Linked DNA regions of Homo sapiens. The protein of the gene in region 6 purifies or fractionates together with the protein of the main gene of each other region. This does not show direct contact. Each region holds a gene or a part of one and is shown on either strand. Other genes may lie near its edges. The genes, in order: NSRP1, MACROH2A1, LTV1, MRPS33, PIP4K2A, RIOK2 and NKAP.

Region 1 (4,160 bases), on a different chromosome or scaffold from region 6:
CCCAGCTACTTGGGAGGCTGAGGCAGGAGAATGGCGTGAACACAGGAGGCGGAGGTTGCAGTGAGCTGAGATTGCGCCACTGCACTCCAGCTTGGGTGACAGTGCAAGACTCTGTCTCAAAAAATAATAATAATAAATAAATAATAAAATTAAGTAAATAAAATTTAAAGTTTTGATCACAGCGGCCACATTTCATATACTCAGTTGCCATATTTGGCTGGTGGTTGCCATACTGGGGACAGCTCACATATGAACATTACCATTTCTTGAGGCATTTCTATTAATGCTGGTCTAGAAGGTAAAGGATTAGAGGATTTTTGAATAAAGTTATAAGGTATTATAGGAATGGTGAGATGATTATGCCATAATTATGTAGCTGAAGGTAAAAGAGTCTGTCCTAAGCAAAAAAAAAAAAATTTTTTTTAACAGGAATGTTCTGGGTAGATCTGAGTCTGTGTTGCTAAGGAAGGGAAGAGGTAGGAGAATAGAATTAAGGTGAGGAGAGGAAGTTTATGCCCCACTCCCTCCCTACGCTGCTAGGCTTTGATTATAAAATTGGTGAGAAGTATGAACCTAAGAAAATGTATTTGAAGATTCAGGTTTTGAATGGAAATTATATTACGTTATATCTTTGTATTAGAGTTTCATCTGGAATATTTATTAGGCTGCCATGAAACTCTGTAATGTCGTTGACATAGTTGTACTTCTTAGAGTCTAATAATCGAATTCCTAACTGTTAGTGGGTCCTTTAGCCAAGATAGTTCTGCCAGTAATTCCTGGAGAACCAAAGTTGTTGCACCATTAGTGTGATTAGTAAGTGATTAGTAAGAATCACTGAGTGGTTCTTATTTACATTATACTCATACTATAAAGTTAACTGTACTTGCCAGCTGGAACAATGAAGGTAATATAATTTTAGTATTGTTGATTCTAATGGACAAATTAATATATTTCCATTTTGTTGTGATAGGTGCCAAGGAGTGAATCAGGATACACTCATGAGAGAGAGTAAATATTTAGGATTATATTTGCCACTATTTTGCTGTGCAAAGATTATCTTCATGTATTTCTAGGACTATTTTTATAATTTTTTAAAAAGAAAAAGGCCAAGCATGGTGGCTCACACCTGTAATCCCCGCACTTTGGGAGGCCAGGGTGGTTGGATCACCTGAGGTCAAGAGTTTGAGACCAGCTTGGCCAACATGGCAAAACCCTGTCTCTACTAAAAATACAAAAATTAGCTGGGCATGGTGGTGCAGGCCTGTAATCCCAACTACTCGGGAAGCTAAGGTGAGAGGATCACTTGAGCCTGGGAGGCAGAGGTTGCAGTGAACCGAGATTGTGCCACTGCACTCCAGCCTGGGTAACAGAATGTCTCAAAATAAATAAATAAGAAAGGAAACAACAAATCCAACAGTCACAACTTAAGCTTCATGTTGTGAAAATAGAACTTAGATTCAGAACATTTATTACTTTTCCCAATTATTCTTTGTCTTAGGCTTACCAAAAAATGAAGACCTGTACAGACCCTTGCCTGTAGGTTCTAGTAGTATAGTAGACAAGGGCTAATTTTCTCTTTTCACTTCTACAAATATTGAAAATATTCTGAATGGTATGAATTTGAAAATACTAGTTTGCATAGACATCAGGACCTTTTTGCATTTGGATAATCAGACAGTATATATCACTATAGGTGTATTGATTTGAGTATTGATAAAAATTATATGAACCCTTCATTTGCTTATTACAACTGATAATGTGGCATTTTTTTCTGCCCTTTTTTGTTTTTTGTTTCTAAGATCTGGTATAAAGGAAGAAAAATCAAGGGGCTTCTCCAATGAAGTAAGTTCAAAAAACAGAATACCACAAGAGAAATGCATTCTTCAAACTGATGTGAAAGTAGAGGAAAACCCAGATGCAGACAGTGACTTCGATGCTAAGAGCAGTGCGGATGATGAAATAGAAGAAACTAGAGTGAACTGCAGAAGGGAAAAGGTCATAGAGACCCCTGAGAATGACTTCAAGCACCACAGGAGTCAAAACCACTCTCGGTCACCTAGTGAAGAAAGAGGGCACAGTACCAGGCACCACACGAAAGGATCACGAACGTCGAGAGGACATGAGAAAAGGGAAGATCAGCACCAGCAGAAGCAATCCAGAGACCAAGAGAACCATTACACTGACCGTGATTACCGGAAAGAAAGGGATTCTCATAGGCACAGAGAGGCCAGTCATAGAGATTCCCATTGGAAGAGGCATGAACAGGAAGATAAACCAAGGGCGAGGGACCAAAGAGAAAGAAGTGACAGAGTATGGAAAAGGGAGAAAGATAGGGAGAAATATTCCCAAAGAGAACAAGAAAGAGATAGACAACAAAATGATCAGAACCGACCCAGTGAGAAAGGAGAGAAGGAAGAGAAAAGCAAAGCAAAGGAAGAGCATATGAAAGTAAGGAAGGAAAGATATGAAAATAATGATAAATACAGAGATAGAGAAAAACGAGAGGTAGGTGTTCAGTCTTCAGAAAGAAATCAAGACAGAAAGGAAAGCAGCCCAAATTCTAGGGCAAAGGATAAATTTCTTGACCAAGAAAGATCCAACAAAATGAGAAACATGGCAAAGGACAAAGAAAGAAACCAAGAGAAACCCTCTAATTCTGAATCATCACTGGGAGCAAAACACAGACTCACAGAGGAAGGGCAAGAGAAGGGTAAAGAACAAGAGAGACCACCTGAGGCAGTGAGCAAGTTTGCAAAGCGGAACAATGAAGAAACTGTAATGTCAGCTAGAGACAGGTACTTGGCCAGGCAGATGGCGCGGGTTAATGCAAAGACCTATATTGAGAAAGAAGATGATTGATGGCTACCCCAAGAGAAAGATTTAAGGAAGCACAGAAAACTGTAATTCCTGGAACCTGCTGCGTAAAACCATAAAGGAGTGTGTTACCAGTAGTTTGGAGGGCATTTTTAAATTTATTTTCAAAATTTTAAGTTAAAAGTCAGTCTTACAGCTTGGATGTTTGGATGTGGATGTTTGGCTGAATTTATATATAGTGTGTACTCATCAATACCACATTCTTTGTTGTATTCAAGAACCGTTAAGAGTGTGCTAATTCCCTGTAGGTACATAATGAGGAAAATTTGCTCCACTACAACCATTAAAAAATAATTTTGGCCAGATACGGTAGCTCGTGCCTGTAATACCAACATTTTGGGAGGCCAAGGCAGAAGGATATTGAGGCTAGGCATTCAAGACCAGCCTAGGCAGGATAATAAGACCTTGTCTCTATTTAAAAAACAAAAAGCCTAGCATGGTAGTCCATGCCTGTAGTCCCAGCTGTTCGAGAGGCTGAGGCAAGAAGATCACTTGAGCCTAGGAATTTGATGTTACAGTGAGGTATGATCATGCCACTGCACTCCAACCTGGGCAACAGAATGAGACCCTGTCTCTAAAAAATTTTTTTTAAATAAATAATTTAACTCTTCTAATAATGTTTTGTTGCAGGAAATGTATTTCAGATAAAATATGGATTTGAAAAACAGAAAATATACTTTATGTTCTGAAATTTGTATTTAAGTATAAAATGTGAATCATCTTGTCTAAATAGCTTACAGCATAGTTGGCTTAAATGAAAATAAAATGATATGCTTATACATTTTATTTATGCATTTATTTTAAAATAATTTTACTCATGTCACAATTCATCTTTTCGCTTTTAGTAGAAATTAATTTGTAATTCTGAAACCTTGACAAGTTAGTAAATTGGTTATATATGTAAATCACTTTTAGTTAAAGGTGAAGCTGTGGAGACATTAGCCTAAATGAAATTAGCTAAAGATCTAGGTGGCCTGTTTCTAAACATGTCTTGTTTCACCTACTCTGAAAAAGATAGTGCAGTTTATTACAAGTTCCACTTGTGTATAAAAATAAAACTAGTATCTTTCTTCTGAGTCTTTGAAACTCAGGAGAAATAATTATACACTGTAAATATTTTATTTATGGGGAAAGATGAATGCTGTGGAGAAAATAGTTCTCTACTAGGTCTTCCCATTAAGAAAATGCTGTTCATATATCTCACAATACTCTACCTAAAGAGCACACTTTCTTATTTTTAGAAGGATAAACTTGGTTTAATAAGAATGCTGACTAGATGAAATATA
Region 2 (3,500 bases), about 38 Mb from region 6:
TCCATCAAAACTCAACTGAACGCAAACTCAACGTGTCAGAACATTTGCAGCCTCAAAATAATTGTTTTGGGTTTCCAACCCTTCTTCTTCAAGTCGACTGGTGTGCTAATTATCGACTTGCACACCAATATGATGTATTTGTCTCTACTATGATGTATTCTCTAAATCTCCCAAACCCAATTCAGGACAAAGCTACTAGGAAAGCAACTGCTTTAAATGATCTGCTAAGCAACCTGACCAGCATCTCCACTCTGCCATTGTCTTCTCCCTGCTGAGGATGGCCTCACTGTGTGAATAACGGATCCTGTTTATTTGTGGCAGAATTAGATTAGTTTTTAAGGAACTGTGTTTTTCTTTTCCTAGAAGAGGGGCCCCTTTCTAGCTATACATCTCCACCAAAGACTTGCCTTTCCCTTGCCAGATCTAAGGACACAGGCCTGGGGTCTGCCACAAACTGCAAAGTACCATGTCTCCCAGAGCATGTTCCAGAACCCCTGTCCACAGATGCTCTGCAAAGAAGGTTTCCAGGGCACTGGGTTTAGCTGCATGCTACGCTTCTATACAAGAGCACACCAGAGTCTCCACACCACTGCTAAAGTAAAACATCCAAACTTTTTGTATTTGGTTGGCTATTTCTGAAACTTTTTTTTTTTTTAAGGAATATCTGTCCAAGGGGTATGGTTTGTTATGGTCGTGTCATAGATACTGGAGAAGGAGCGATTTGTGGGTAGTGTCTCATGGTACAGTGGAAACAGCTCAGTCACAGGGTGTGAATTTGAGTCCTGGCTCTGCTTTGTGACTGGGCTTGAGAACTCTGGGCTGACCTATAAAAACCTGACATTGGGGGTTGAATTAAACCAGTGGGTTTGTCCCCATGAGAAGTCATGGCTAAACTATGCATAGAAAACGACTGGAAAGAAACATTAACAGTGACTATCTTTGCACAGTGGAACAGGAGTATGTTTTATTCACCTCTTTATACTTTCAAAAATATTTTAAAGCAGTTTCTAAAATAGCCCTTAAAATCAAGAACAAAAGTGTTATTGAAACAAGCAAAAATATCTTGAACCATGCTATACCTAATGGGTTTGCATCTGCTGTGGCTGAGGTTTCCCCAGCAGAGTTTGGTACATGGCAGCACCAGGCTGCCTACCAGGCCTTGTGCCAAGGGCTACCAGCAGGACTCAAGCTGGAACCCCGATGGGAAAGGACCCACAGGCTGGTCAAACAGGTGTTTTAAAGGGCCTGGGGAAAGGCCAGCTGCCCCTGGCTAGGTAGTTAAAACTGTGTATGCCTTCCCTTGTACAATGTGGGACTTTGGTGGAACTGCCTGGGAGAACTTCATAATTACTACCCTGTATGTCATGCCCCTTGCAGGTAAAACAGAAGTGGCAGAGCAGAGGTCAAAGGCACAGATCAGCAAAGGGAATCCTACTGGATCCTGAGACTAGCCTGGAAGGGGTGTCATTTGTCACTGGGAATAGAGGTGCACGGCCTGGTGGACCCTCCGAGAGAGCTTAAGATTCATTTTTAAAACAGAGGATTTAAAAGACACAATAGGCATTGGAATCGGGTAGTAAGAAGAGAAAACCAGAGCCCCAAGTGAGGAAGTGGGTGATCTGTCCTCACACAGTTGGTGGGGGAGCTGGGCCTCCCCACTGACTGGACTCTCAGGTCCTTAGGAGGTGCTCTGTCCTGCACACCCCAAATGACCACCTAAATTCAGGCCTGAAGCAGTAAGAAGTACCCTGCCTCCAGGTCTTAGCAATAATTCTCCCCACATCAGATGCCAAGTCGTTTTCTTCCCCTTATACCAGGGAAGGTGTAATTGGCAAATGAGAAATGTGTATTTATATGTTTCCTCTTACACACACAGATGGCTGAAGATTTTTAATTTGTATCTCTCACCAGCAGTTTTGCAGATGGCTCAGTATCACTCACTCTCAGCTCTTAGATGTACCAAACTCAGCTCCTATAATTTCTTAAAATTTGTGATCTAGACATCAAACATATAGGAGCTATTTTAAGTAATAAAAAAAAATGCAAAGGTGATTTTCCCAGACAACCTGCATGTGGTGAAACTCTAAGATGTAAAGCTACAGGCTGTCCTTGGCCTCCATCTTGAAGATGCGGCTGTGCTGCCACACACCTCTGAATTCTAAGCCCTCTCACAAAATGGCTTTCCTAATACTGCATGTGTCACAACCAGATAAGCACGGTGGCTTTCCCACCTCACCTCCAGCTACTTCCAAGGGCCCGTTCTTTTTCCGGAGTTCCAGGACAGCTTCCACAAACTCCTTGCCACCTTTCTTCTCCAGCGTGTTTCCTAGACAAGGACAGGGTGGGGTCAGGTTGCCATTCTGTGTCTCCGGCACACACAGACACTTAGCATGTCAGGTGATTACATACTTCAAATGATCTATTAAATTTCCATCAGGCTGCAAAACAGGAACTAAGCCTTGGCTAAGTTAATAAAGTAAAATTGAGAAGGGCTTTGTCATCACCAGTTACTACCCTCAAATTGCTGCTTCATCTGGCTGTCTCTGCTGCCCCTTATTTGGGTCTGACTCAGGGTGATCATGGATGTGCCAGAGATGTGAAAGAGACAGGACATGCTTGTTTTTTGCAAACATGCTTGTCCTGGATGCTTTTCATTGGCATGAGATACTAGCTGGTACTGGTTTCCAAGACTAATGCCTGCCTTAGGTTTTCTTCTCTGTCTCTGGGGAGAACCCCCAAGTAAGGAGGTTTCAGCAGCATACAATGCTCCCATCAATAAGCCAGCTCTCCTCCTGGCAGCAGGCCTAGAAGGAAGTGTTCATACCTGGCCACCTTTGGACCAGCATTATTACCATGCTTAGTTCCTGTTTTGCAGCTTTGGTGTCATATGCAAATACAAAATAAAAATGGCCTCAGACGGTATTTTCTTAATTACACTAATGATTCAGAATTGTTTTCAGTAAAGAAGGGCAACATCAGAAGCAGAGCTTAAAGATTAATCTGTGTTCTATAAAAAGCTTGGAAAGGAGGATGTCTAACTGCTCAGGACCAGATTTTTCACAAAAGCCAATGGAGATTGGGAGCAATGTGTTTTCTTCAATTAGGGCACTTGCTAAGTAATCAGTTCCTGCTGTGAAAACCAAGTTCCCAAACAAGATCACCAACACCTATGAGAACTCTGGGTTGATGCTCATGTGGGATAGCAAGTGGCAATCAAAGTTAGCAACAAGATCAGCCTTTCAAGTTTGGCCAGAATGGGGTCTGAGTCTTCCTTAAGCTCTGATTCCTCAGTTTTGCACATTTTAAAGTACTTTTCCTCACAAGAGGACAAAATACTCCCCTTAAGATTCACATCTGTCTTGGAAAATTCCAGGTGCACCTGGCACAATTCTGGTATGGGACGGTCAAGGTGCATCGGAATGCACCAGCCCAAATTCTCTTTGGAGTCACCCTGCGATGACCAGGGTTAATTATCTTAGTGAAACTTGCCTCCTTTGAAT
Region 3 (3,500 bases), on a different chromosome or scaffold from region 6:
TCTTACACAATAGTTATTCAGGTACTATCACAATTACCATTAAAATATCAGTAGGGATTTAATGCAACAATAGGATGTGGAAGATATTTCTGCTCAGTACTTTAAGACTTACATTTAGCCTAAAAATAGGCTTCCATTTAACATGTAAATGAAAGGCATTATTCCACTCAGCTTGGAGAACAAAATGCTAGGCAGCACAGATTACGTCAGAACATTTTTGAAGATACTTTTTCTTTTTTTTAAGTATCTCACTGTCTCCCAGCCTGGAGTACAGTGGCGTGATCATAGTTCACTGCAGCCTCAAACTCTCAGGCTCAAGCAATCTTCCCACCTCAGCCTCTCAAGCAGCTGGGACCACAGGCACATGCCACCATACCAGGCCATTTTATTTATTTTTTTAAATAGAAACAGGGTCTGCACTGCCCAAGACAGTCTCAAACTCCTAGGCTCAAGTGATCCATCTGCTTCGGCCTCCCACAGTTCTGAGATTATAGGCACGAGACACTACGCCTAGACTAAAGATATTTTCATATTCCTTAGTTATGCAAACTAAAAGATTGTGCAACTGAAAATTCACCTACTAATGTATATATTTGTTCTTGTTTAGACAATAATTACTATATTATGCAAATGGTGTTGACACTGTTAAGCTTTGACAAAGAGTAAATGGGGGGGATATATCTCCTGAAGAGTGAGATTTGTAGCAACAGTTTGTTTCTCCCTCAAGAGAAGAGGGAAAATAGTATTAGGTGAGAAGGTAGCAAGGTAACAGCCTTTATTTTAGATTCACCTGGATGGCAACTATTCCTTCATTCATTTATCATTTATGGAACACTTTAAACTTCTATTACATGCCAAGACACCATTTTAGGCTTTTGGATGTATCCGTGAGCAAAATACAAAGAACTCTCTGCCCTTGGGGAATTCACATTCTAATCTGAGACAAATCTATATATAACATACATAATAAAGCACAACATTAGAGATGATGTTAGGAGGTGTTATGTGCTACAGAACAAACAACAGGATAGGTGGGATTAAAAACCTGTATAAACAGTCTATAGGTTGGGATTATAAACCCTGGAGCTAATCTGTTACAACAGAACCAAATAGAGTATATGAAAATACAAGCTTTCAAAAGTGTCTTATACTCTACTTCCATTCTATTCCTCAGTGTTAGTTATGTCTGAAAACACCAGATGAGAAACGGAAAGAAATGGAATTTTGATGTGCTCAATCAGGCCAATACTTCAGAAATATAGCATCTTATGGATTACTGTTGGAGAAATTCAGAATCAGGATGTCAGAATTCAAGGGGGAAAATAAGAACGTTTGATCAGCCAACTCCTTTTGACCTACACACGTTCTTTCCAGAATCAAAACTAGGGTGACTGGCCTCATAGAATATGTAAAGGGAAAACGACAATAACTAAGGTGCTTTTATGCTCTGTTTTAATAAAGAGATACGCTGTTTTCAACACTCAAAAGTTTTAGCTTTGGGTCCCAATCTCTCTTTTTAAAAAATAAAAAAAGAAAAATAACAAAAAAAAACAAGGCACACAGCAAGGCGCCTAACATCTACTTAGCTCGCGGGCGGATCAGCTGACTTGGCCAGAGGATGTTCCAGTTTCCAGATCAACCTCAACCCGCTCGGCTTCGTCAAGGTCCTTGAGTGGACTGCTTCTATCTTTAGAGTCACCTTGAAGGAAACTATTCCTTCATTCATTTATCATTTATGGAACACTTTAAACTTCTACTACATGCCAAGACACCATTTTAGGCTTTCAGATGTATCGTGAGCAAAATATAAAAAACTCTCTGCCCTTGGGGGATTCACATTCTAATCTGAGACAAATCCATATATGACATACATAATAAAGAAGCACAACATTAGAGATGGTGAGGGTTTAAGGGCCACTTCTGGGGGTTTTAAGGGCCAAATAGAAACTCAAGTGAGTTGTCCTACCACAGTTAGTGAGAATAAAACTATTACAGCTACTTTTGGTTACCCATTCAGGTTGAATGAGGCATCATTTGAGCCACCTCCTGGTGTAAGCGTGTGATGTAAATTGGAAAAGTCACATCCTCCTAACCAATTACTCTTCTTCTGCACAGTTCTATGCTCCCTTTGCAGTCTTTGTGCTCCTGTACTGCACTGATACCCTTCTGCTTTATGCTGGCTACACGAACCTATAGCTGGATAGTTGTAAACTTCCTATGATTGACTTTGTGGTTGGTGAGCACTTCAACCTGGGCTAAAGCTGACAGGTATTAAAAAAAAAAATTTAACATAAGATAGTACTAAAGCATCCCTTATGTGGGGACCTTACCTTCTCAAACCTCTCATCATGTAGGGTCAGCTGTTCATTTCTCCTCATGACTGAGGAAGTCATCGAATACTCCGTGAAGCGACTCTTTGTTTCCTCACTCCAGAACAAGTGATCTGCTATAGCTCTGTGAGTTTTTCCGGGCACAGACATACAGTCTTCATCTGACAATAGGCCTGCAGAGTCATAGTCATCATTGCTATCTCCCTTCTCATCATCCACATCTTCCCACTCGCTGTCATCTTCATTCTCAGATTTCCTAAAGTAAAGGTCATAAATTACCTACCAAAACAACTTAAAAAGTAACAGAACAAAACCACTTTACACAAGTAAAATTGGAAGGTATTTCAGGAAGGGTTCTTGTCTAGGCAGGAAGAGTGAGGGTGTTTGATCAATCTGGTTTGGTAGGAAAAGCAATGAATCTCACATTTTCTGCTCTAAAATACAGAAGTCTCAGATTAAATGCTCTTGAAGGTCTCTTCCAACTGTAACGTTCTATGGTTACCATCCCACTGAAGCAGTAACACTTAGGTCATCATCTCTGCTTTGAAACAAACCACACATACTGTATATCCATTCCCTCTTCCTCTCCTGTTGCCTTATTGGCCTGAAGAATAAAGTCATCCTCAAGCAGATTATCTGGATCATCAAAGTCAAAATCATCATCAAGAGCTGCAACAATGTCAGGATCAAAATCCAGTCGAGGTCCTAGAAGGAAAACAAAAATTAAGCAGTAATTCCCAAGATAGCAACAATTCATTCACTTAACTCACAATATAAGGACCTATGATAGCAAGAGTCTATTAATATATTGAGGATAAAAGAACGATTAAGAACTAAGTTCAGTCTAGTGAAGAATAAAGAATGAACACTCCAAGACAAAAAAAGGAAACAAAATGCTGCCTCAGCCCCAGTCAGGACCTTATAAATAAAACTCCCATCTTCCTGGGACAGAGCACCTGGGGGAAGGGGCGGCTGTGGGCACAGCTTCAGCAGACTCAAACGTTCCTGCCTGCCGGCTCTGAAGAGAGCAGCGGATCTCCCGGCACAGTGCTCAAGCTCTGCTAAGGGACAGACTGCCTCCTCAAGTGGGTCCCTGACCCCTGTGCCTCCTGCCTAGGAGACACCTCCCATCAGGGGTCAATAGACACCTCATAGAGGAGAGCTCTGGTT
Region 4 (3,500 bases), on a different chromosome or scaffold from region 6:
ATGTCATAGATTGTAACCTCTAATGTTAACCAAGCACATCTATTATGTTCACTGCTGTTCCCCTAGTGCCATCTTAAGTGCCTGCACGTGGAAGGTACGTAAGAAATATCCACTGGATAGTGAATGTACCAATCTTTAGTGATCTGCAATGAATGTTGTGCTGTACTATTAATTCTATTGTATTAGAATAAATGGTTCCCAATAATTTTAGTATTGTTGCCCAAAGACAACTCCAATTACAACTTGTTAAATTTTTAAAAAGATGGTAGGTATTTTAACTTTATACAATTATGTACTATTTGAATTCTTTTGTAATGGGCATGTATTAGTTTGGTAATTAAAAAAATAATTTTTTTTTTTTTTTTTGAGACCGAATCTCGCTCTGTTGCTGGAGTGCAGTGGCACGATCTCGGCTCACTGTAACCTCTTCCTCCTGAGTTCAAGCGATTCTCCTGCCTCAGCCTCCCAAGTAGCTGGGATTACAGGCATGTGCTACCACACCCAGCTAATTTTTGTATTTTTAGTAGAGACGGGGTTTCACCATGTTGGCCAGGCTGGTCTTGAATTCCTGACCTCAAGTGGTCTGCCCGCCTTGGCCTCTCAAAGCGCTGGGATTACAGCTGTGAGCTATCATACCTGGCCAAAAAAATAATTTAATGAGAAAGATCACACAGGTATTTGATTTTTTTTTTTTTTTGAGATAGAGTCTTGCTTTGTCACCCAGGCTGGAGTACAGTGGCATGATCTTGACTCACTGCAACCTCCATCTCCTGGGTTCAAGCAATTCTCTTGCCTCAGCCTCCCAAGTAGCTGGAATTACAGGCGTGTGCCACCACGCCCAGCTAATTTTTGTATTTTTAGTAGAGACGGGGTTTCACCATGTTGGCCAGGCTGGTCTCAAACTCCTGACCTCAGATGATCTGTCTGCCTCGGCCTCCCAAAGCACTGGGATTATAGGCCTGAGCCATTGTGCCTGGCCTGATCTTTTTTTTTTTTTCAGAGATGCACACAGTTCTAAGCACCTACTCCCTAGACATACACACACATACAAACACATGGTGTTAAGAACCTGTGTGATTTACGTATTATCCTTAAAGGCAAACTACAGCTTATCTAGACCAAATTAATATGTCAAAAAGGGTACAAAATAAAAATGCCAGAAGACAGTAGGAAGAAATGTCAACAAAAATGCCACCAGAAGAGAAAGAAGGCTCCCACATACCAGTTAAGCAGCAGATCAGGTGTCGGTCAGGGACTCTGTTCATCTGATAACAAGAGCCCACTGCCCTGGCAACCTTGGTGTTTCTGAGGCTTTCTTCCTCAGTACTTGGACCAGTTTTTCTCTGCATTGTTTTTTTTTTTTTTTTCTCGAGATGGAGTCTCACTCTGTTGCCAGGCTGGAGTGCAGTGGCGCGATCTCGGCTCACTGCAACCTCCGCCTCCCAGATTCAAGCAATTCTCCTGCCTTAGCCTCCCGAGTAGCTGGGACTACAGGCGTGCACCACCATGCCCAGCTAATTTTTGTATTTTTAGTAGAGACAGAGTTTCACCAAGTTGGCCAGGATGGTCTTGATTTCTTGACCTCGTGATCTGCCTGCCTCGGCCTCCCAAAGTGCTGGGATTACAAGCGTGAGCCACTGCGCCTGGCCTCTTGGCATCCTTTTTAGAGTGCTCTTAGATTAACAAATGATTAAACACCTCTCTACAGCTCAGTATCTATTCAACATTAGTCATGTTGTAGACATAATTAAAATATATCTTCCAACAAGCATGAATTTCCTTTTTTTTTTTGGTCTCTCCATTATGGGTATTTTGAAAGAAGACTTTCTCCTGCCAACTGTACCTTTTGAACTACCTGGGCTCTATTATAAGAACAAAACTACAAGGATAGAAAGGCTAATTTTTTTCCTTTTCTGATCTACTGAAAAAAAGTCTCTCATAGGTCCCTCTTTGTGTTTGTCATCACCTGTAGAGTCCAAGAAATCGGAGCGTCTGCATGAGTTCAGCGTAAGTGTGGTGATTTGGATACCAATCATAAGTCTCCTTCTTCTTGGCCAAGGGCAGTTCACTAAACAGTTTCACCACTTTCATAGACTTGGAATTAGTAGGCCTGGTGACTTCACCAAATAGCCGGGCACTGAGACGAGACATGCGGAAGGCATATTCTGAAAGGGAGGACATTTCTTGAGTGGCAAGGAGTTAGAGTTCCTATTGAAAATGAGAAGAAAGTTAAACAGGTTAGGGTAAGAAATTCCAAGATTAGCTAATGAATAAGTTAGAAAATGCAAACACAGCAAGCCACTCATGGATCAGTGCAGTGTTGGCAGGATATGCCTTGGAGTGGAGAAGTATCCACAGTCCAAATGGCTATTTCCTTTCCATGCTTTACAGCTGCGATTTTTGCACTTCGTGTTTACATGCTATTACTTCCTTGCTGTATTGCCTCCTTTGCAACCAACTATTTTGTGATTCACCAGGTTATTTACTGACAGTCAGTTTACCTATTTGTAGGCTGGGGATGAAGAAGACAGGGAAACAAGTTATCCTAATCCAGCATCATTATACCTTCAGAAAACACCCACCTAAGCAATCTGCAGCATTAATATGCTGACTGCTTGCCATCAAAAGGTGTAATCATGGCAGAGACATAATTATGTTGTCTTTACTATCAGTCCTTTGAACACTGTTCTCCTCAAGGGCTCCAGAAGGCTCTGAGAGCTGCTAATGAGTTATGAGGTCATTTGGCTTCTAGGTTACTGAACTGAATTTTGCCTAGAGACTGAGAGCCATTTGGGAAAAACAGACAGTAGCCCTATAAAAATAAATCCAATAGCTCAAAAGATCCATTTTCTTACTAAATAGAAGGCACGTATGAATTGTAAGGTTACTTGCTGTATCCTCCATCTTATATATTCTGCTTTAATGCAAACTACCTAAGTTCTTATCAGCTGGAAACAGTAGCTTTTTCTTCAGAGACATACAACACTGAAATGGGTATAAGAATGATATCCGTGATATGCACGAATTACAGCTAACAGACATAAAAAACTATACAGGGGATACATAAAAATCAAGAAAGCTGCTGGTGGAATAACTATCTCAACTCAGTTTAGACCAGACGTAGGGGTTATTGTTGGCAGAATATGCCAATTTATGAGAAATTTTAGTAGTGAGATGAGAATCTTTGCTGACTCAGAGACTATCCTGGGAAACAGTTCAGCTGAGATGAAAAGGTGCTGATATTCAAGCAGGAAAAAGGCATAAACTTTGAAAAACCAATGGGAGAAATGTACCAAAAACCCTCCTACATAAAAATGGTGCCAAGTGAATTTCAAAATAGTTCTTGTAAGAAAACAAACCGTGTTTAAATTAAGGAAGTTTTAATGCCTGTTTCAAGATCCATTAACAGAGGAGGCTGGGCATGGTAGCTCATGCCTATAATCCCAGTACTTTGAGAGGCTGAGGTGGGAGGATCGCTTGAGGTCAGGACTTCAAGACCA
Region 5 (3,500 bases), on a different chromosome or scaffold from region 6:
GTTATCTGAGAAAGAAAGCTTTTAAATTTTTCACGTAAATATTTGTTGGATTAATGGACGTGATTTATATATTGAACTCATCTGTGTGCTCTTTACTTCCCTTACAGGAACTAAGTTTAAAAATAAAGATTGGGGTGGGGCATGAATTTACCAAAAGAAGAACCTCCATTCAGGGAAGGAAGAAGACACGTGGTCCCAGGACTACAAGAGAAGGAGGTGGGTTGGACATGAGTCAAGAACAAAAGCAAAGATGTGTTTCCAAAGGACAAAGGGTAAGATCAAGTTCCAGTGAATGAAAGGGACAGCTTTGGACACAATTTTGAAAAACCTGAACTTTCTCTTCGTTAACTATTTTTGCATGTTGACTTTCCTTGTTGCTAGCAATAAAAACCATGTCAAAGATTTATGCTTCCAGTAGGATAGAAGGCAGGTACGCTGAAGGATTCTCAGTTACAAAAACAAAACAAGCAAACAACAAAAGAATGAGCTGCTTGATAGAGCTATTTGTTTTTTTTAATCACATTGCTGGGTTCACAGACAGTAGAGGCAATCTCCAAGACACCTTTCTTCCCCCAAAGTGAGTTTAATCCACAGGGAGTGTGGGGACCATTAAGCAAGCCTGAAAGGAGGGACTCCGAGGACAAATGCCAGTTTCAACACTTACTTGGGCCAAACGAAAGCTGGGAGCTCAACAAAGGCTTCAACGTTAACCTGAGATCCTTGAAGGAAGCCTTTGAAAGTGGCCCCAACACCTGGTGGAAGTAAATGTAAATGATCTCCGGAGGAGAGCAACCCCTGCCAGGCCTCCAGGCTTCCCACAGATGAAGATCAATCAAACATGAGCTCACAGAGACAGCAACGACTAATTAATATTTTCAAGACTTTAGTTACTAAGATGATCAGATATAGAATTTTTTAAGCTGTGAGAAATTATACAGAAATAGAAGATGAACAAAAGATGATTATATTTGAAAAAATAATGATTCAGAATTTTCCACAATTAATGCACGTTATAAATCTGTAGATACAGTTGGGCACAGCAGCTCATATATGTAATCCCAGCAATTTGGGAGGCTGAGGCAGGAGGACTGCTTGAGCCCAGGACTTTGAGACCAGCCTAGGCAACAGAATTCGTCTCTAACAAATAAAAAAATAACAAAAGTTAGCTGGGCGTGGTGGTGTGCACCTGTAGTCCCAGCTACTTAGGAGGCTGATGAAGGAAGATCACTTGTATCCAGGATTTCAAGGCTGCAGTGAGCTGTGATTGTACCACTGCACTCCAGCCTGGGTGACAGAGTGGATCCATGTCTGTTAAACAAAAAACAAACAACAACAACAAAAAAAAAACAAAAAAAAGCAGAATACTCAAAGCAATATATAAGTAAGAATACTCAAAGCATACCTAGATACGCTGTAGTTAAACTAAAGAAGGCCAAATGCAAAGAGAAGAAAGGAATGGTGGCCAGAGAGAAAAGGCAAACACAACAGAGGAATGATAGTGACAGCTGACAGCTAGCTTCTCAAACCCACTGAACAAAAACAGGAATCTAACGTCATATAGCTTCTCCAGTTCACTTTACTCAAGCATCTTATGATACTAAGTCATTCCCAGAGTATATCTATGAAAAATTAAAGTTTATGTATCCTTATGCTATCAGTGGAATATCAAAGTTTGAAAAATAACAGAAAAAGAAAATCATAATGGAAATCCAAGTCTTGTGATAATAAACACAATGCGAATGAAGCTGGATGCCAACTCAATCAGCACTTCGATATCTTGTGGAACAAGAGAAAGCGAAACCCAACGTGGAGGTGGGATCAGACACTGATTATTTAAATGCGCGTGATGTGTTCAGCAGATCCTCCAAAGCTTTGATGCCTCCTCAGGCTGCTTAAATCAGTATCACTTAAGAGAGTCTTCTCAGACAGGAAACAGGAAACCAGAAACTTTCTGCATCCTTTTGCTTTATGGTACCTGCTCTGGAACATGTTTTGTGGAGAAAATATGAAAACTTCAGCCAACATGGAATGAGTAAACTGAGAATTTTCCTTATTGATTTTCCTTCCCCACCCATCCTCGCGTCAGCACAACCTTTAAGAGTCCACTCTGTGCTGGGCACAGCTCGGACACCAGTCTTTGTCCTCTTGGGGCTTATGGTCCAGAGGGGCAGACACATTAACTGAAGAACTGCCCCAAGTGTTGAACTCTAACAATGACAGAGTCAGGAGGGAGAAGCACAATGGGCTACGAGCAAGTATGGAAAAGGCCCAGGCCAGATGGGGGAGGCATGTGAGGCTTCCCTGGGCAGCAATGGCTCGTGGAGAAAGGAGAGGGCAGGTGGACAGGGCTTCCAGGAAGAAGGCGAGTCCTAGAGAGGAGGGGACACTGTTAATGGGAAAACAGTGCAGAAATAGACAAGGTGCGTGGCATGAAAGGGATGAACAACAGGCCCAGGAGCACCGGGAAGCGGCTGCTGTAGAATTGCACCAGACAGAGGAGAGCAGCTCAGCAGAGGGCGGAGGCGGCAGCAGAAACGAAAGAAGCAGAGAGACTCCGGCATGCTGAAGTGCTGAAATCTATGGGGCTTGATGATGACAGACTAGAAATGTAGGGAAAGATGGAGGGAATGCTGCATGCATGCGGGGGAAGCTGGTGGGTCCAACGACTGGCACAATGCATCTTAAGAGAAGAGTTCAGTTTTGAGCTTGTTAAACTTCATGCGCTCTTGGGACATCTAAGTGTCAATGTCAGGTAGGCCGTGGACAGGTGGGTCTGAAGTTCCCAGGGGCAGCAGGGGCAAGAGATAAAAATGTGTGTATCTGTGCATCAGACATTAGCTCCCCAGAGGAGTGGATGAGGTAACCTGGAGAGGGGCCGGTGTGATGGGGAGGAAGGCGGAGAAGCAGTCTTCAAGAACGGGAATGTTTCCAAGCCTGGAGAAGAGGATGAGAAAGGGGAAAACTGCCATCGAGGCAGGAAGTGAAAAAGCACAGGGCCACCCAATGGGAGTGAAGGGAAAAGGGGGTTCAAACATGCTATGGGATGATCATGATGCTTTTGAGAAGGCAGGGACTGGGAAATGTCAGCCAGATTGAACGGCACAGGAGGTCCTTGGCAACCTTGGCAGAGTTGTTTCGGTGGAGTGTAGCAATGGAACCCAGACTAAGTTGAGTTAAGGAAATGCTGGCACTGCACAGGGCTGATTTCTAAGGAGCCTGGCAGGGAAGGACAGGAGCGAGATGAAGAGGGATGAGGGACAGAGGGAGGACCTGACAGAGAAGGGACATTCCGTAGCACTTCTCGAGAAAGTGGGAGGGGATGGGATTCAGGCATGCAGGAAGGAGAGGCTCTGAGGAGGGAAGCGACTTTCCTGTTCACAGGAGGGAAAAGAGATAGGTGTCATGGGGAGGGAGCAGAACTGATGGAGGGAAGATGGGGCTCCCGACCACTGGCTCCTATTTTCTCTGGGGATTAGGGCCATGGCCACCTGCTAAGAGTG
Region 6 (3,500 bases):
AATTTCCAGTTCCAAAGCCAATTGATTACAATCGTCATGCAGTGGTCATGGAACTCATAAATGGTTATCCACTGTAAGTATTCATTATTCTTAAAGCCATGAATCCTGATAAATGAATTTAAGTTTCAGGGTTTTTAATAAAATTTTTTTTAGTTAATGAAATATTGCCTCTGGGAGGTTAAAATTTATTTAAAGGAATAGACTCAAAGACAAATTAAAAACCCAGTTTCATTCTGACAATATGAACTTTGTAATCTCTGTGATTCATTCATTCATTCAATATTAAGAGACTGTTAGGTGCCAGGAACTTTTAATCTCAGCAGTGAACAAAACAAAGTCCCTGCCCTCATGGAATTTACATTCTGATGGAAGGAGATGTGCAATAAATAACTAAAGGAAATGTATATCAATTGTTAGTAAGTACTATGGATAAAAAAAAGCAGAGTAAGGGAGATAGGAAGTACTAACGGGACAGGAGACTACTGTTTTATGTAGGGTGGTCAAGAAAAGTCTCACTAATAAGGTGAAACCTCATCAAATTTTGATTCAGATTAGCAGCTATTGGAGTGGGAGTATTTTGAGCAGAGAAGAGATGTGATCTCATCAATCAGTGATCTCAGTGTTTTCAGAGGGTCACTCTGCTTGCTGAATTAATAGACTCTGGGGAGACAAAGAATTAGGAAGACAAGTTAAGAGGCTATTACAATAATCTAGGCAAGAAATGGTTGTAATTCTGATTACAGTGATAGTTGTGAAGGTGATGAAAAGTGGTCAGATTCTGAATGTGTTCTGCAGGTTGAACCAACATGATTTGAGATTGGATATGGATGTGAAGGAAGGGATGAGTCAATGGTGACACCAAGGTTTTTCCCCTGAGTAGCAAATTAACTGGAAGGAGAAATCTACCATGTATAGAAACAGGAAAGCTACAGGAACAGCATTTTGGAGTTGGAGGGTGGGACAGAATCAGAGATTCCATTTTGGACATGCTAAGTTTGAGATGCCTGGGAGTTAGAGAAGTCTACATTAAAATCAGTGTATATGTGGTATTTAAACCATTAACCTAGATGAGATCACCAAGAATGAGTCTAAATAAGAGAAAATAAAAGGTCATAGGATTGACCTTTGAGGAACTCCAGAATTTAGAGGTCAAGGAAAAAGATGAAGTACAAATAGAAAAGACTAAGAAGGTATGATCTGTGAGGAAGGAAGAACACCTGGAGAGAATGGTGTCCCAAGAGTTAAGTGAAGAAAATGTTCAAAGAGGTCAACTGACAGACCACATATGATGAGGACTAAGAATTGACCTTTGGATTTAGCAACATTGAAGTCATTGTAGTCTCAACAAGGGTGATCTTGGAAGCACTTTGGCCTCCCAAAGTGCTAGGATTACAGGGGTGAGCCATTGCGCCTGGCCCGTACATGCTATTATTGATTCTGGATGTGGGTGTGTTTGTTTAGAATATAATCATTTTTTCATAATTTTTCAATTTTGTGATACTATTATTTAGGTCACTCACTGGTTTGAAGTGGCTAGTGTTAACGTTATAAAAAGCCTGTTTGAAATGGTATGAGAGAGTAGGAGGAAACAAATTGGAAAAGCACATGTAGACAAGTTTGGCTGTAAAGATCAAAGAAAGGTAGTAGTAGAAAAGAGATACAGAATTGAAGCAGTGTGGCTATTTTTTTAATAGATGGGAGATATTATATCTGTGTGCTGATGGGAATGAGAAGAAAGCTGCTGGGGATACACAGCATGGAAATAATATATATGTTCACATGCATACATACTTTCGTTAAAACCGTAAATGAACACAAGTAACCTATTTTCATGCTTAAAATACTTTCAGATGTCAGATACACCATGTTGAAGATCCTGCATCAGTATATGATGAAGCTATGGAACTAATTGTCAAACTTGCAAATCATGGGCTGATTCATGGAGATTTTAATGAATTTAATCTCATTTTGGATGAAAGTGACCATATCACCATGATTGATTTTCCACAGATGGTTTCAACTTCTCATCCCAATGCTGAGTGGTACGTACTTGCTATTTTTTTATTTTTATTTTATTTTATTTTTTTGGAGACGGAGTTTTGCTTGTTGCCCAAGCTGGAGTGCAATGGCGCGATCTCGGCTCACTGCAACTTCCACCTCCCGGGTTCAAGCAATGCTCCTGCCTCAGCCTCCCGAGGAGCTGGGATAACAGACATGTGCCACCACACCTGGCTAATTTTTTGTATTTTTTTTTTTAGTAGAGATGGGGTTTCTCCATGTTGGTCAGGCTGGTCTTGAACTCCTGACCTCAGGTGATCCACCCGCCTCGGCCTCCCAAAGTGCTGGGATTACAGGGGTGAGCCATTGCGCCCGGCCCTTACATGCTATTATTGATTCTGGATGTGGGTGTGTTTGTTTAGAATATAATCATTTTTTCATAATTTTTCAATTTTGTGATACTATTATTTAGGTCAGTCACTGGTTTGAAGTGGCTAGTGTTAACGTTATAAAAATTTGGTTTTTTATTAAAGTATAACTACTAGAGTTTTCCCCATAAGAATTTGAATTTCTCTGTTGTAAATTGACAGACGTTCAAAAGTCAAATTTTCTTAGCCATGGAACCCTTTGTTCAAACAGACTTTTAGATGGAAGACCAATTGTTAAAACAGGTAAAAGTAGGGAGTGTAGTGGGGAACTCTAGAACCACTTTTGTCTTTCCCTTTTTCTTGCTGTTCCATGATTGCCTCCAAGAGAGATTCACCAAGTATAACTCAGTAATCTCGATGATCTGAATAAAAGTTGTGGTTTTGGACTGGACTCAGTTGTCAAACCAGTGATAATTACCTCTTGTCACTTTTAGCTTTATTTATTAGAAAAAAAATCACATAAAACTTTATCTCTGACACAGTGCAGAATCATGATATACTGCGATAATCATATTCTTCACATTACTTATTTAAACCAAGCCAGCCAAGTCATGAAACAGGACCTTATCCTTTATTTGCTTGAGGTTTATGATTCAATTGAGTGTAACTAAGGATTTTTTTTTCTTTCTGTTCCAAGCTTTATGAGAAACTTTTTTCCTAAACTAACAACTAGTATCACTTATATAATAGAGTATATTAATTCTTCCAGAGATTGAGCTTGAAGTAGTTTTGTTAAGTGAAGCGTCTCTTCATCCTGGTTTCCAGTAGAAAATGTCTATACTTATGCTACAGAAAGAAATGTCATTTGAAAATAAATTTTTAAAACGTTTTCAACAAAATAATACTAAAAGATTAATGCCTGGCACTGGGGTGGTCAGTACTCTTTGGATGATGACTAATCATGATTTTTATTAATAAGGAGTAACATAGTCACACAGTAAAGGAACATCTAGGAGCCTCCAGAGTGTGACAGATTATGACATTCTAGGTTTAGGCTGCATCGTTCTATGGAGAGACATTGTGATTTAATTTCAATTTTTATGAACCAGTTCTGGGGCCAAGGAGCTGTGCTAA
Region 7 (3,500 bases), on a different chromosome or scaffold from region 6:
CAAGCGATCCTCCTGCCTGGCCTCCCAAAGTGCTGAGATTACAGATATGTGCCACTGTGCCTGGCCAGTTTTTTGTTTTGTTTTGTTTTAAAGAATGCCTATCTTTGTGAACCCGGGAGGCGGAGCTTGCAGTGAGCCGAGATCGCGCCACTGCACTCCAGCCTGGGCGACAGAGCGAGACTTCATCTCAAAAAAAACAAAACAAAACAAAAAGAATGCCTATCTTTTAGAGAAAGGTACTGAATTGCTTATGGATGGAATGATATCTGAGATTGGGTCCAAAATAAATGATGGATGGCAGATACTGCCCATGAGTTGATAATTATTTAGACTGCATGACAGGTGCAGGAAGGATCATTATACTATTTTATGTAATTTTATATGCATTTGAAATTTTCTGGCCGGGTGCAGTGGCTCACTCCTGTAATCCCAGCACTTTGGGAGGCCAAGGTGGGAGGATCACTTGAGGTCAGGAGTTCGAAACCAGCCTGGCCAACATGGTGAAGCCCCATCTCTACTAAAAACACAAAAATTAGCCAGGCATGGTGGTGGGTGCCTATAATCCCAGCTACTCGGGAGGTTGGGACATGAGAATCGCTTGAACCTGGGAGGCGGAGGTTGTAGTTAGCTGACATCGAACCACTGCACTCTGTTGCCTGACAGAGTGAGACTCTGTCTCAAAAAAAAAAAAAAAAAAAAAAAAAGAAAAGAAATTTTCCATAATAAAACTTAAAAAACTGACGATCTGTGTTTCTTCTTCTTTTCCTTTTTCTTGGCTTTCTTTGCTCTCCTTTTGTTATCTTCATCTGCAAATTAAAGCACATTACAATTAAGAAAAAAATTTTTTAACTCTAAAACCGTAGTACTTTTGAGTAGGTAACTATCCTATTGCTGTCCCATTTATTGTTACAAAGAAATTACCTCATTGAAACATTTATTGCTATTTGTCACGAACTGTAGGGAGGTACTATGAACATAGAAATTAAAGTCACTAGGTTTTGATGATATAGGGTATTATTATTAATTTTATTGTGTGAGATAGTGTGGTGGCTAATTAGGAAAATGCCTCTTTTTACGGGATGCATACAGAAATATTTAGGGTGGAAGTGTGATGATATTTGTAATTAACTTTGACTATCTCAGTGAAAAACCCATATTTGAAGCAAATATGTAAAAATACCAACAACTGCCAAATCTAGGTGATTAAGTATATGGTATTAATTATACTATTCTCTTCGCTTTTCTGAATATTTAAATATTTTTGTGATAAAAAGGGAAAGAAAACTATGTGTGTGTTGGAGAGGGGAGAGAGAATCCTTTCCTGGAGCTCAGTCTAATGGAGGAGACAGATAGGTAAAGAGATCAATACAATCTGGAATGATAGAGGGAAGCTTGGGGAACCTGGACACACAGAGGAGTCTCAAAATCAGACTGATTTGAGGAGGGTGGCTGAGGAATGGTTGATCAGGAAAGGTGACTCTTAAAGTAGTTCTTTGATTACAAAAGTAATGCATGCCCATTGGTGCAATGAGTAAACCAAGCTGGATGGAGGGAGAGACTGGCATTGTAGGCAGAGGGCCTCTCTACCAAGTAACAAGAGAAAGAACATGGAATACTGAGGAGACAGAAAGTAGTTTTCAGATTACAGAGGATGTTGCAAGAGAGTGTAACAGGGTATATGTGATTAGAGAGAAATGAGTCAGGGTCTGAACTTTACCCTGAAGGCTATGGAGTGCTATTGAAGGATTTTAAGTAGGTATTTGGTGTATAGGGTATTATTACTAATTTTATTGTATGAGATAGTGTTGTAGTTAAGTATAAAAATGCCTCTTTTTAAGTGTTGCATACAGAAATATTTGAAAGTTCTGTCTTCGAGCACTGAGGAAGAGAAGTGACAGGGAGGGCCAGGAAACTTCGGCGATATCAGAGGAAGGTGAATCTTTGTGTAATGTGTTAACCTCAGAGGAGGCACCTTCTGGTCAATCATCAGCCAGGAGAGAGTACAAAAAGGAGACTCTTTGTGATGCACTACCCCAGATAGGGTGCCTTCCACAAATAGGCAGCCAGCATGAAGTAGGCACTTTATGGCATACCTTTTTGAAAACTGTAGAGGTGCTCATTGGGCATGAGAATTAAACAAAAGAGCCCTTCCACTGGGCCGATGCAGCCCTGTAAGGCTTACTTTGGTACAGCCCAACCCCCTGACTTGGTCTGGTGCCATGTGCCTTGTACACTTTGCACAACCAATCCCAATCCGGAGTCAGATTGCTTAGGTTTGAATCCAAACTGTGTGACCTTAGGGATAGTACTTATAACCTGCTCTGTCTCCATTTCCTCATCTATAAGATGTACCCTACAGTTATTGTATGGATTAAATGGCAATAATAAATATAAAGCACTTATTGGGGTACCTGGCACAAGGTTAGCAAGTGTTCAAAAACTCTTCAGTATTATTATTGTTTTCAGGAACCTTCTTCTAAAATAAGTTTTAAGAAGTAAAACTAGTTTTGAAGCAAGGCTTGCAGAATGCTGTTGGCGTTCTTACCACTGGAGTCTGTTTCAGAATCAGAGTCACTGTCGCTATCTTCAGAATACTTCTTATGTTTTCTTTTCGATGATTTTTTCTTTCTCCTTTTCTTGGACCTTTCTTTTGAACGGCTAGACTTCTTCTTTTTTTCTTCTAAGAAAGTACAAATTAAAAAATTATATTCTAAAAAACTATTTCTGAACATCAAAAGAAACAGACGATGGGCAATTTGAGTAAAAGCAAAGTCTAATGTTCAACTATTTACAAACTGATTTTTTTAAATCTCTCAATAAAATAGCTTGTATTTTAAAAATACCCTTTTTTTAAAAATACCTTCTGAAGTAGAAGCTGAAGTAGTGCTTTTCTTTGGCTCTTCATCCTCCACTGGTGTATGTTCATCAGAACTGAATTTAAATAAAATGGTTATAAGAATTAGGAAAGTGATGAGATATGGACCATGGAGTGTAAAGATATGAACTCCAAATTTTTCAGTAACAGCATCGATTGTCCAAGAACCATTAAAAGCAAGCATTGGAGATCCTAAGGCAGAACTTGGGAATCAAAAAAACCAAAACAACAACAAAGCAAGCACTGAACTACTTTCATAAACGTGCAGTTCAAGGGTCTACCATCTTTGTAATAATAAAATAACTTATCATTTGCATAACACTTTAGAGTTTACATAGTACTATTTAAACAAAGCAGCATGGAGGATTTATATTTTCACAAGAAACCACAGGGAAAAAGTAGAGAAACAGGAACCATAGGAAAGATTAAAGAAACTGGGTATAAGAAGGCTGAAGAAAGACTTTATAATTTTATTTTAAGCACGTAAAAGACAAATGGTAAAGCAGCAACTGTTCTGTCTCCTCAGAGCAAAAACCTAACAAACTACAGTCTAAAGAGATGTTGTTCTGTTGCAGAGAATTCTGAAAATGAGTATTATTCAAATTCTACAATAGTTTAGAAAAGG

Evidence for each region.
Region 1: the proteins of RIOK2 (region 6) and NSRP1 purify together in Homo sapiens (affinity purification with mass spectrometry; one large-scale study listed by BioGRID and IntAct). This does not show direct contact.
Region 2: the proteins of RIOK2 (region 6) and MACROH2A1 purify together in Homo sapiens (affinity purification with mass spectrometry; one large-scale study listed by BioGRID and IntAct). This does not show direct contact.
Region 3: the proteins of RIOK2 (region 6) and LTV1 purify together in Homo sapiens (affinity purification with mass spectrometry; one large-scale study listed by BioGRID and IntAct). This does not show direct contact.
Region 4: the proteins of RIOK2 (region 6) and MRPS33 fractionate together in Homo sapiens (co-fractionation; one large-scale study listed by BioGRID). This does not show direct contact.
Region 5: the proteins of RIOK2 (region 6) and PIP4K2A purify together in Homo sapiens (affinity purification with mass spectrometry, with the first as the bait; one large-scale study listed by BioGRID). This does not show direct contact.
Region 7: the proteins of RIOK2 (region 6) and NKAP purify together in Homo sapiens (affinity purification with mass spectrometry, with the first as the bait; one large-scale study listed by BioGRID). This does not show direct contact.

The regions. Positions count from the first base shown.
Region 1 is NC_000017.11:30,182,816-30,186,975, forward strand, and holds the end of NSRP1 (nuclear speckle splicing regulatory protein 1), read left to right. Parts: intron 1-1,799; coding exon 1,800-2,859; 3' UTR 2,860-3,660; downstream 3,661-4,160. UniProt on the Homo sapiens protein: RNA-binding protein that mediates pre-mRNA alternative splicing regulation.
Region 2 is NC_000005.10:135,343,732-135,347,231, forward strand, and holds part of MACROH2A1 (core histone macro-H2A.1), read right to left. Parts: intron 2,327-3,500; coding exon 2,237-2,326; intron 950-2,236; exon of another isoform or gene 1-949. UniProt on the Homo sapiens protein: Variant histone H2A which replaces conventional H2A in a subset of nucleosomes where it represses transcription. Nucleosomes wrap and compact DNA into chromatin, limiting DNA accessibility to the cellular machineries which require DNA as a template.
Region 3 is NC_000006.12:143,856,838-143,860,337, reverse strand, and holds part of LTV1 (protein LTV1 homolog), read right to left. Parts: intron 3,036-3,500; coding exon 2,894-3,035; exon of another isoform or gene 2,757-2,893; coding exon of another isoform or gene 2,755-2,756; intron 2,587-2,754; coding exon 2,331-2,586; intron 1-2,330. UniProt on the Homo sapiens protein: Essential for ribosome biogenesis.
Region 4 is NC_000007.14:141,008,453-141,011,952, forward strand, and holds part of MRPS33 (small ribosomal subunit protein mS33), read right to left. Parts: intron 2,209-3,500; 5' UTR 2,182-2,208; coding exon 1,967-2,181; intron 1-1,966.
Region 5 is NC_000010.11:22,610,079-22,613,578, forward strand, and holds part of PIP4K2A (phosphatidylinositol 5-phosphate 4-kinase type-2 alpha), read right to left. Parts: intron 1-3,500. UniProt on the Homo sapiens protein: Catalyzes the phosphorylation of phosphatidylinositol 5-phosphate (PtdIns5P) on the fourth hydroxyl of the myo-inositol ring, to form phosphatidylinositol 4,5-bisphosphate (PtdIns(4,5)P2). Has both ATP- and GTP-dependent kinase activities.
Region 6 is NC_000005.10:97,169,748-97,173,247, reverse strand, and holds part of RIOK2 (serine/threonine-protein kinase RIO2), read left to right. Parts: coding exon 1-73; intron 74-1,850; coding exon 1,851-2,042; intron 2,043-3,500. UniProt on the Homo sapiens protein: Serine/threonine-protein kinase involved in the final steps of cytoplasmic maturation of the 40S ribosomal subunit. Involved in export of the 40S pre-ribosome particles (pre-40S) from the nucleus to the cytoplasm.
Region 7 is NC_000023.11:119,933,752-119,937,251, forward strand, and holds part of NKAP (NF-kappa-B-activating protein), read right to left. Parts: intron 2,932-3,500; coding exon 2,861-2,931; intron 2,681-2,860; coding exon 2,546-2,680; intron 807-2,545; coding exon 743-806; intron 1-742. UniProt on the Homo sapiens protein: Acts as a transcriptional repressor. Plays a role as a transcriptional corepressor of the Notch-mediated signaling required for T-cell development. Also involved in the TNF and IL-1 induced NF-kappa-B activation.